Linked DNA regions of Homo sapiens: region 1 is linked to region 2. Evidence: fine-mapped expression QTL. A gene starts in region 2. The other region holds a variant in brackets. All regions are shown on one strand. Distances are between the middles of the regions. Region 1 has its middle 72 kb from the start of DACH1. Region 2 holds the start of DACH1 (dachshund family transcription factor 1).

Evidence for each region.
Region 1: its variant is fine-mapped to the expression of DACH1 in blood mononuclear cells (TOPMed, PIP above 0.99). The same link has a PIP of 0.9 or more in whole blood.

The regions. Positions count from the first base shown.
Region 1 is chr13:71,936,479-71,941,856 of GRCh38, forward strand. No RefSeq gene overlaps it. Among named protein-coding and RNA genes, the nearest start is that of DACH1, 72 kb to the left of the region's middle. The variant A/G (reference allele first, on the strand shown) is at 2,804.
Region 2 is chr13:71,864,424-71,869,801 of GRCh38, forward strand. DACH1 (dachshund family transcription factor 1) reads right to left here and starts at 2,781. Exons shown (of 11, transcript NM_080759.6): 1 at 1,499-2,781. The coding sequence starts at 2,346.

The sequences.
Region 1 (5,378 bases), 72 kb after region 2:
GAGCTGATGTTAATGAAGGAAGTGCCCTAGCGAACTAGTGCTGTCTCCAGTGAACTATCACATCCTAGGGCATAGTGGCTGACTTAATGGGTTAACTTAGGATTCATAATAAAATAAAGTCTTGCCTGAAAGATAATTCTGTTTCATTGAAATCTCGGAAAGAACTTGTGAGAATGATCATCAGTATTCTATGACAAATGATAGTCCAGTAATGTAGAAAGTAGTGGTGGACTTTTTCTTCATTGACCACTGTTAATCCATTAGCAACTTAATTCCTTTGAAATGTAACTTCTTCAAAACACTTAAGGCTGTCATTTTTTATCACTGAGCATCAGAGTCCATCAATCATTGCCAAAAATTGTCAATCACAGTCAAATGAGGGCATTTTCAGAACTAATGGATAGGAACATTTTGACCTCATGTTTTTCAAAACCTTAAAATCACATGCAAAAGAATATAACTTAGACTCCATCTTCTGTTACTGGTAACTTTAGATAACCTTAGAGATTTTCAAAGTGTATTTTGAATACATAGTGCTAGATTTGTTTAATGGCTCATACTTTAAGAAATCAGAAGCATACATAGTGGAAAATTCTAAAAATGAGAAACATGAGATCTGGGTTCTAGTCTCCGACTTCACTACCATATGTGACCAAGGGCAATTTCTTTACCCACTCTTAGAGCTCTGTTGTCTATTTTCTATAATAGATACATAATATCTTACCTTCCTAGTGAGAGAACTGTGAAAATGATCTCATGCAGTTTCCTCCCACTTGGAGATTTATTACCATAAATCTTTTACCTGCAGTTGAAATGCACAAAAACAAACTATAACCAAAACAAAATAAAGCAAAAGAGACTCAAATTGTTTCTTTAGATATATTTTCTCCAAGACATAAACCTCTACCTTGTATATTTTGTCTTCCTGTATTTTTAATTTTCTACCAAAGTCCTTTTAGTTTTCAGGCAAGCTAAATGATTAGCATCAAAGACAGTCCCTAGAATTTCTGGCTGAGGTTAATTGTGACAGTTGTGAGTCTGACAGTTGCATCTTCATTTGCTGATTTTCCAAAGTCTAGCTGCATAAAGACCCAGGATTGCCAAATTATGGGGAAAATACCAGTAAATCTGCTTCTACTTCTTTCCTGTCTACTACCACACAGTCCTGGGTTGTAGCTCAATGCCATGTTTCACGAATACTGTGTATGTTTTCCTGCAATGTGTACCCCTAAGATTTGAGATTTGCCTGTTAAATTCCACAATAGGTAAGTTAAAACCTACCTGCTGCTTTTTTAAACTATAACTTTATTTTTGACAAAATTCTGTCTTCACGTTTAAGTATTGACCTTTCCTATATTCTTAACAATTTCTGTCTACAGAATTGCATTCACTAGGGTGAAGTTTCTCCGTGGGTTTTTGTTTGTTTGTTTGTTTGTTTGTTTGTTTTTCAATGTTTGAATTAAGAAAACAACCATCCTTTCTGCATTCGAGGAAATCCAAGGATAACCTAAACATTTTCCTTAGGAAATTCATAGGTGATTGAGGCTCCTGCCAACATGAAAAGTTCACTCACCCAGGAAAACTTAAAACATTTATTTAATTATTATTTGAGTGGCTCCTATGAGTCAGATACTTAAACAGTACAGCCCTTAAGGTTCCCATTATCAGTAGGCTCATCTTTTTCTTTAATGTCTGAGTCCGTGTTCCCTAATTATCCGTTGCCCTTTCTTCCTTTTTACAAAAAAGAGTGGGAAAGAGTGCCTCTAGGGTTGACCTAGCTCTGACAAAGCAAGTGGAAATAAATGAGCAACGTTTCTAGAAACTACACCAAAACGGAAGTCACCATTCCCTCTTCTCACGTTCTCTAAGACAGCCAAAAGTACACACAACACGGGACAAATGCCCTATCACCCCAGGGAGAGTTTGACTTTTTATACACAAAAATCGAGGAGGTAAAAATCAGTGCAGCAAAGGGGTTGAGGATAGTAAGTTAGTTTTATGAACTAGAGATAAAAAATTTTTAAATCCTTTGCAAGGTTAAAAGGTATAAATATATCAGTATGTTAAAACTATTATTGATAAGAACTTGGAGGAAAATACAAATAATATCAAAACAACATAGTTTTTTTTTTCCTACTTATTCCTGTTAATGCCTATAATATATAATGCCTATTAATATAATATTAATGCCTATAATATAAAAGGTAAGGTAACATTACTTTCTTGCTTTCTAGAAAATTGTTACATTAAACATATCACACATAAATCTAATTTGGAGCCATAAGTTTTCATTATTATAAATAATGCTATTGCAGAGATAATTTTATTTGTGTCATCTTGAAAACAATATAGACTATCCAACATTAAATGAAATTTAAGTGTATTTCATGTATGTTATTTGTGACAAAAGAGGTAGTGTATATGCCAAATTTTGCTAAAATAAGGACTTTAATGCAACCAGACACTGATTCTCTGGTGACTTCATACATCACTTTCACCACTCTGACTCATAGAGACAATGCAAAATTCATGAAAGCAAGGAAAAATATGATAAAATTTGTGGTATTTTTTTGTTTGTTTAGTTTTATTCTTAGCATTATTTTGTCACCATTTTTATTTTTAAAATATAATACACACAATTACTTTTTTTACTGCACTTCAAAGAACTTTACAGTTTTAAATTATTTTATTCTTGTATATCCCCTCTCAGAAAAAAGTGAGGGAGGTTGAAGTAAAGCGATTTAACCATAAAGGAAGGTAAATTTCTGTATGGTGTTTTTTGCAGGAGACATAAAGCATGTCA[A/G]TTATATCCGTTAGTGTTCATTTCAGATTCCAGAAACCACACCAGTTATTTCAAGAGAAAAAATTTGGCATTGAGCATTGTTAAGCATGTAATGAAGAAGTGAAAGGGCACAAAGGGTACATAAATTATCACAGAGGTAGAAACCACAAAAAGCAGCTTCCACTCCCAGGACTGGAGAAACAGAAGAAGGGGCTATTATTGCAACCTGAGTGTTGGAGAAGGGGTCACACAAAATTGTAAGTCAGTCCTTCGAGAAGGATGTGCTACTACGTGGTGTGGGTGTCTCTGATCTAGGAGGAGGGGATGGGGGTGGCTCTGATCTAGGAGGAGGGGCACTACAGGGCTGGGACTCTATCCTCTGAAGAGGGGGTATCAGCCAATTGATGCTTCCATTTTTAGTGGGGTTGGGGAAGTTATTTCTGAAAGTGTTGGAGCAAATGCAAAGTGGAATTAGTTATTGCTACCAGAGCAAACATTTATTGTCAGGATGAAGAAATGTTGCTGGGTATTGCTGAGAGGAGCTGAAAGCAAACAGGAGAGAATGACAACCTTCTTTTGCCTTTTTCTCCTTCAAGTTGCCTCTAGCACCTATGAGTAGAAGTCTAACAGAGAGCCAGTTGGTAAGAGAGAAATATGGTTTTGCAGAGCATATAAGGTGGGTGGGTGGGAAACATAAAAGACAATAGCTCAAAAATCAGCACCTAAGGTATCTAACATCTGCTGATATGCACCCTGTGACTGTCTAACAAAAACTAAGGGAATAGGCTGAGCATGGTGGCTCATGCCTGTAATCCTAGCACTTTGGGAGGCCAAGGCAGGTGGATCACTTGAGGTCAGGAGTTCAAGACCAGCCTGGCCAACATAGTGGAAAACTGTCTCTACTAATAATACAAAAAATTAGCCAGGTGTGGTGGCACGTTCCTGTAGTCCCAGTTACTCAGGAGGCTGAGGCAGGAGAACCGCTTGAACCTGGGAGGCAGAGGTTGTAGTGAGCCGAGATCGTGCCACTGCACTCCAGCCTGAATGACAGAGCCAGACTCTGTCTCAAAAACAAAACAAAAGAAAACAAAACAACAAAGAAAAACTAATGAGATAGAGGCTGTGGCTTATTTCCAATTCTTTTTCTCCCATTTGAATGTAAATAATATTCAGACACACGCATGTGTGCATGCAAGGGCTGCAATGAACTGCAATAATTACAGAACCCTGGACTAAATAAGAGCCATAATAAATGAAAATGGGAAAAAATGCAAGATTATAGTTAGTTGAGATATAAATTTAAGGTAAGAAAGGGGTGACAGTGGCCAGGCACAGTGGCTCACGCCTGTAATCCCAGCACTTTGGGAGGCCAAGGTGGGCGGATCACGAGGTCAGGAGATCGAGACCATCCTGGCTAACACGGTGAAACCCCATCTCTACTAAAAATACAAAAAATTAGCCGGGTGTGGTGGCGGGCGCCTGTAGTCCCAGCTACTCGGGAGGCTGAGGTAGGAGAATGGCATGAACCTGGGAGGTGGAGCTTGCAGTGAGTGGAGATCGCGCCACCGCACTCCAGCCTGCAGCCTGGGTGACAGAGCGAGACTCCATCTCAAAAAAAAAAAAAAAAAAAAAAAAAAGAAAGGGGTGACAGTATGTGGCAGATCATAAGACTCTATTATCCAAAATGGAGAGCAATATTTCTGGTTCCAAATTCTCTTCTAAAACTCCATTAGTCCTCATCAAGAATTAGACTCTGTTTCCCCTTCCATTGAAACTGTACTGGCCTTTGTGACTGCCATAATGAATAGAATGTGGCATAAGTGACACTGAGCATCTCTAAAGAGTAGGTGTTAAAATAGATATACCTTCTCTTTGACCATCTCTCTTGGGATACTTGCACTTGAATCTGGCCACCATGTTGTATGGCTACCTAAGCTACCTAGAAGAGCTAGATTAGGTGATCTGCCCAACAAACCCCACAAAAATCCCAGAAGATTGCCAGTATCAATTTCTAGACATGGAATTGAGAAAGCTTACAGATGACTCGAGCTTCCAGCCTTTGAGCCACCTCAGTTGATGTTGAGTGCAGCAGTGATGAGCTATCTCTCTGGAGACTGTAAAATGTGCAGATTAATAAAGCAAAATATGTTTACTTTTCAAGCAACTAAGTTTTGGGGTGGTTTGTGATGCAACCACAGTAATTGTAACAGATTTTGGTCCCAGAAGTTGTATGCTGTTATAACAAACTTAAAAACTGGCTTTGGGAGCAGGCGGTAGGTAGAAACTGGAAGAACTTTGAGGAGAGTGTTAGTGAAAATCTAAAGGGCTTTTCTTAATGAAAGTTTGATTGCCCCAGAAGAGACTGTCAGTAAGAGTTTAAGTAAAAGTGACAAAAATGATATTGGAACCAAGAAATAAGGGGATTATTGTTATGCAGTGACAGAAAGTTTACAACACTATTGCCTGAGGTAACGTGGAAAAAGGAAAACATATCTGGTAAATTGGATGATCTAACTAAGAAGATTTCCAGGTAGAATACTGAAAGTCCACCTGGTTTCTTTTTGCTGTCTGTAATAAAATGAGAGAAGAGAAATAC
Region 2 (5,378 bases):
TCAACCCAATGTCCTTCTGGTCTCCTTGCTACACTTCCTTTCCACCTAAGTTTCCCTATCTCTGCGGGAGCACACACTAACTCCGCTCCTTCTCTCAATCTTCAAACTTATTTGGAGGGTACCGAAGTTTCTGCGCAAATTTTGCGCGCAGTTCCCACGTGCCCGCTTCAGGTCTTCAACTTTCCCTATTTTCTTTCTCCCGGAATCTCACTCTGAACTTTTGCCTCTGCGCTTCCTTGCAGAGAACCGTGGGGACAAAGCGGCGCTGTGAAAGGGGGTGGAATGATCATCTCTACCCCGAAACTGACAAGTTGCCCCACTCCCGCCCCCTCTTGGTAGATCCTCCCCCACTGAGCGTTCATTAGCATAAAACTGGTCTGGCTGGGGACCGGTCCCGCCGCCTCCTCCGTGCGCGCGCTTTGCTGGGCTGGGGAAGCCAAGGCACAGAGTATCAGGGCCGCTGAGCATCCCAGTGCAAAGTGTGCACCTGCTCGCTGCTTAAGCTACTAACCTTTAAGAAAAGAAAAGAGAGAGAAAGACAGAAAGAAAACACACTTTGGAGAGAAAGAGACAGAGAACTCGAAAGAGAGATCGAGAGAGAGCGCGCTCCGTGGCTTTCCTTCCTAATCTCTCCAGTTCAGCTTCCATTGAGTCTCGGGCAATCGGTCACCTCCCCCTACCGAAGAAAACCTGCTGGTTGCCCTCGCATCTGCCCCGGGGCCACCGTACCCCTTTATTTCCTTTGCACACGCACTCGCTCACACGCGGACACACGCACACATGCGCGAACACACAGACCCCTCCCCTCGGCTGGCTTCCCCTCCGGGCTTCGGAGCTCAAGTCCCCGGAGCCCATCCCCCGGGATGGACCCGGTCTCTCAGCTTCGCGGGTCATTTCCCTCCCGACCTCAAAGTGCCCTCCTCGGGTGCTGGTCCGCTCCCTCGCCTTTCCCAGCGGGGCCCTCACCCGGAGCGCGTCTCCCCGCTCCCCGAGCCCTGCGGAGCAGGTCACGACCTCCCCCCGCCCCCGGGACACCGCTCGGCGCCACAGATCAGCCCTGTCGGTGCCGGGAGGCTGGCCGTGGAACCCAGGTCCTGGGGAGCGCACGAACGCGGACAGCAGCGCTGAGAGGGGTCTCCAGGCGCCCGCGCGCCCGGGGCAGGGGGCTGTGGCTCCAGCAAAGGCGCCGTCCTCCTCCCTCTCGTCCCCTCCGCCCCGAGGCTCGGCTTTCCCACATCCCACAGCAGCCCATCCCCGGGACCCAGAGGGCAAGGGGAGGACCGGGCCGAAGAGCGAGGTCTGGGCAGGGTGAGGTGCCAACTTCTCAGGGGGTCGGGCGCGGCTGGCGAGCCCCGAGCAGGGAGAGGAGAGGGCCGCGCTCGCCGGGGCGCGCGGCTCGCGGGCGCGCAGAGCGAGCGGCGCCGGGAAAGGAGCGAGGGCAGGCGAGCAGGCTGGTGGGAAGGGGCGCGGGCGGCGGGGGCTATCCCCCCCGACTCACCTTGCGTTGGTGCAGTCATTGTAGAGGGTCTCGAAGTCCTTCCTGGAGATGAGTTTGCAGCGGTTCACTCCTGGCTGGATGGCGCCCAGTCCCCTCAGGATGCGAACTTGTTCCACATTGCACACCACCGGCGTGATCTCCAGCCGCTTCAGCTTGGTGTAGACCGTATGCAAGCCCCCCACCAAGTGCTTCAGGAACAGGTCGAAAGCCTGGGGCAGGCAGATCAGCTCGCAGCCCTCCACCGTGAAGGAAGCCACTTTGGCCCCCCTCAGATCCACCATTTTGCACTCATTATTCTGAGGGGTGTTTTCCACTGGGGACGGGGTTGAGTACACGGGTTTCCCGGGGAGGGGGCCGCAGCTGCTGCTGCTACTGCTGCTGCTGCTACTACTGCTGCTGCTGCTGCTGCTGCTACTGCTGCTGCTGCTGCTGCCGGTGCTGGCGTTGATGGGGGTGCTGGAAGCGACGCCGCCGCCAGCGCTGATGCCGCCGCCGCCGCCGCCGCTGCCGTTGCTCGCGGCCGCCAGGTTGGGGTTGCAGTTGCTGCCACCGCCGCCGCCGCCACCGCCGCCTCCGTTGCCGCTGCTGCCGCCGCCGCCTCCGCTGCCGCCGCCGCCGCCGCCGCCGCCGGTAGAGGTGACTGTGGCCGCCGCCGCCGCCGCCGAAGCGATGGGCTCCGGGCGGAACAGAGTTGGCCCAGAGGACGCCGGGGGTCCGATGGAAGGAGCCGGAGACGAAGTCGCCGAAGAGGTGGAGGTGGTGGTGCCAGAGGAGGAAGCAGACGTGGAGATTGGGGGTTGAGGGGGGACCAGCTGGGTCGGAGGGATCAAAGCCGCCGGCACTGCCATGGTCACATATAAGGGGAAACAGACGGAGGAGAAGCGAGAGGAAAAGTTGCCACACACCCCCGGGAGGGGAAGGGGAAAAAAGGGGGGAGAAGGAGCGAGGGGGGCAACAACAACTCCGGGAGAGAACGAGAAGGAGAAAGGGAGAGAAGGGGGAGAAAAGGAGGTGAAGGTAATAAAGAGCGAGCGCAAGAGGGGCGAGCACGAGAGGCGCTCTGGAGAGGAACGCACAAAAGTGTCCCGCAAGTCGAAATGCGAGTCCTCTCCGGGGGCTGGGATCGAGGGCTGGTTTGGGGGTGGGGGTGGGGCGGGGAGGGTCGGCTGTTGTTGTGTGGGTCTCGCTCTAGCACAAAGTTAAGGATGAAGGTGAAAAGGAGGAGGTTTGAAGGACTTGGGCTCTCCCTGGCAAGTACATTGATCAAAGATTGAGAGGGGAATGACAGAGAGAAAATGAGCTGAAAAGTGCAGGCTGCCGGCTGGACGAGTTGTTGTTGTCACACGGTGCAGAGGGGAGGAGCTCCGGAAACTTGAAATACCCTTTGAAGCCGCAAAAACCTCACTCACTAGTATTAACCCAAATTATCCAACCAGGAACTCGGAGCAGAGACTCCGAGAGCGCGAGACACTGGAGAGGGAGCGTGCGAGGAAAGGAGGAGGGGAGGGGGAGGATACGGAAAGAAACTGTGGGAGGGACGGAGAGGAAAAGCCGGGGACACAGAAGTGGCGATCGGAAAAGGAGAGGGAGATCATCTACTTCTCTTCTACTACTACCGTTAGATTGCATGTCTCACATTCCATTTCGTCCGCGGGGACTGGTAATTTTTTCCAAAGCTTCTAAACAATCGCCCGCCAACTTAAAGAGGAGCCTGAGCGCGCCGAGCTCTCTCCTTCCAGGATTTAGGATCCATCTCCACGCGTTTTGGCAATGAGCTAGAAACGAAAACACAGCCCCCACTTCACGATTATTCAGAAATTATTTTGAGGAAAATTCACATGTAAGCAAAGCGTAATGTTCTTTTGCATCTGATTGTTTATTTCTCTACTAAATTATTTATTTATATAAAGATAGTGAAAATTCCAGGACAGTTTTCAAGTGGTGAGAAGAAAGTCAGTCCGAAATCGCTTAAGAATAATGGAAAGCTCTGTATTCAATTCCATATTTCCTAATAGGTTGTGGAAAGAAATGCTTGCCTTGATGTGGATGATTTAGAATAACTTCACTGTCTCCCCAAAAGCCAGTCAGAAATACCTGTTAAACCTAGAGCTATCAAGGAGATAAGGTATCCTTGAAGATTTAGAAAGTGGAAAAAGGGTTTTCTTACCCAAAACTCTATAATTAATTCACCTGTCTTACACAGTAACCAACTATCCTCATGTCCTTTAAGACCCAAAGCCAATTGCTAATGTGTTTTTTGGACAACACAATAGTTTTTTTTTTTTTTTTTTCATGTTTGAAAAGTGCTGCTGTAGTTTTGGAAAGTCCTTTTCAATTTGTCAGTAAATATATGTTTTGTAAATAATGGGAAGAACAAAAACAAAGCTCACTAGTTGACTTGTAAAGACTTGGGTAGCTGTGCTTAAAACAACATGAGGCTGAGTTTAGACTGACTCTATTCCTCCTTTCCTTCCTCTTTCCTTTTCTTTTCTTTTCTAACTTGTTGCACTGAAGTATTTATTCAAGGATTTTTGACTAACATATCATTTGAATATGGGTCAAATCTATTTGCTGCTCATGTCTCCAAGTATCTTCAATTAGTTAGCCTTTGAACCGGTCCACACATGTTCAGTAAGTTCATAAGATATGAAGCAATGCTTTAGCATTTGACAGATTTTTAAAATAAACTGTTAGTAGCAGGTTCACAGGGTTGGGAAATTTTATAATAAAATTTTTGCCATTCTGGTGTTGAAATGATCACATTTCTCTATATCATTTTAAGCCTTTGAACTCTGTGAATCGCAGTGTCAAATAGTGCAGGAACTGTCTACCGAAAAATAGAAATATGACACTATGGACTAATTAGTGTATGATTATACTAAAATTTTTGGGACATAGCAGTTAAATCAGGAGGCTTTCCTGGGAGATAAGAATTCAGAAAATCGATTGTTGCAGAAAAGTCCATGAACTTCTGCAAGGACAACTAAAGTTTAAACAGTTGTTTGGCCTGGTTAACCAATGTATTGTAATACATTCAGAAATAATTTTTATTTATGTTTCAGTCTTCAAATTTGTTATGGGTAAAAGTAGGAATTCAATATATATCACATACATCAAAACACTTCCTTAAGTATTTTTGCATGTTTTAGAAAATATTACTTTTTTAAGACATACCAAACTACTATTATAATGAGGGGAGGGGAGGAAGAAAGTATTAAGCCCTGAAAAGCTAATTTTATTTTCGAATTCTATGCCTAACTTTAATAAATTTTGATATGGTTTTAAAAGACTAAACTATAGTCTCATTATTTTAAGTTCTAGACCCACAAATGGAAGAATGGGAATTAAATGCCGAGCATCTGCCATTACCATTCTCATTTTTTACATTTCCTTAAACTATCACTCACCCAATACCTGACACATTCGGAAGCTACAGACAGGAGGTAATGATAGCAGCCCAAGCCATAATCCCACCTTGCTTCGAAGCAAACTCCAAATTTTCTACTGCAGGGAAACCTTTGCCTCCGAGCACGTGCTCCACTCAGAAGCAGGGCTGAGAGACATTTGCCCCCACCTGAATAAGAGCTCTCCAGCCTTCCTTCTCCTGACCTCAGGTCTCAAAATCAGTTCAGGGAACCACCACTTACCCCTTCAATCAAACAATAGGATTAGAAAAGGCATATAGCACAAATTAAAATATGTAGGAAATAAAAGCCTTGAAAATTTTGAAGGTTTTATCTCTTTTTTCTTTCCTTTTTTTTTCTTTTTCTTTCTTTCTTTTTGAGAAATGTTGCCAATGAGTAAGGCAAACAGTTATTTAACAACAACAGATAAATCAACTTAGAGATTTTGAATTCTCACTCCATTGCATCTTTAGCTT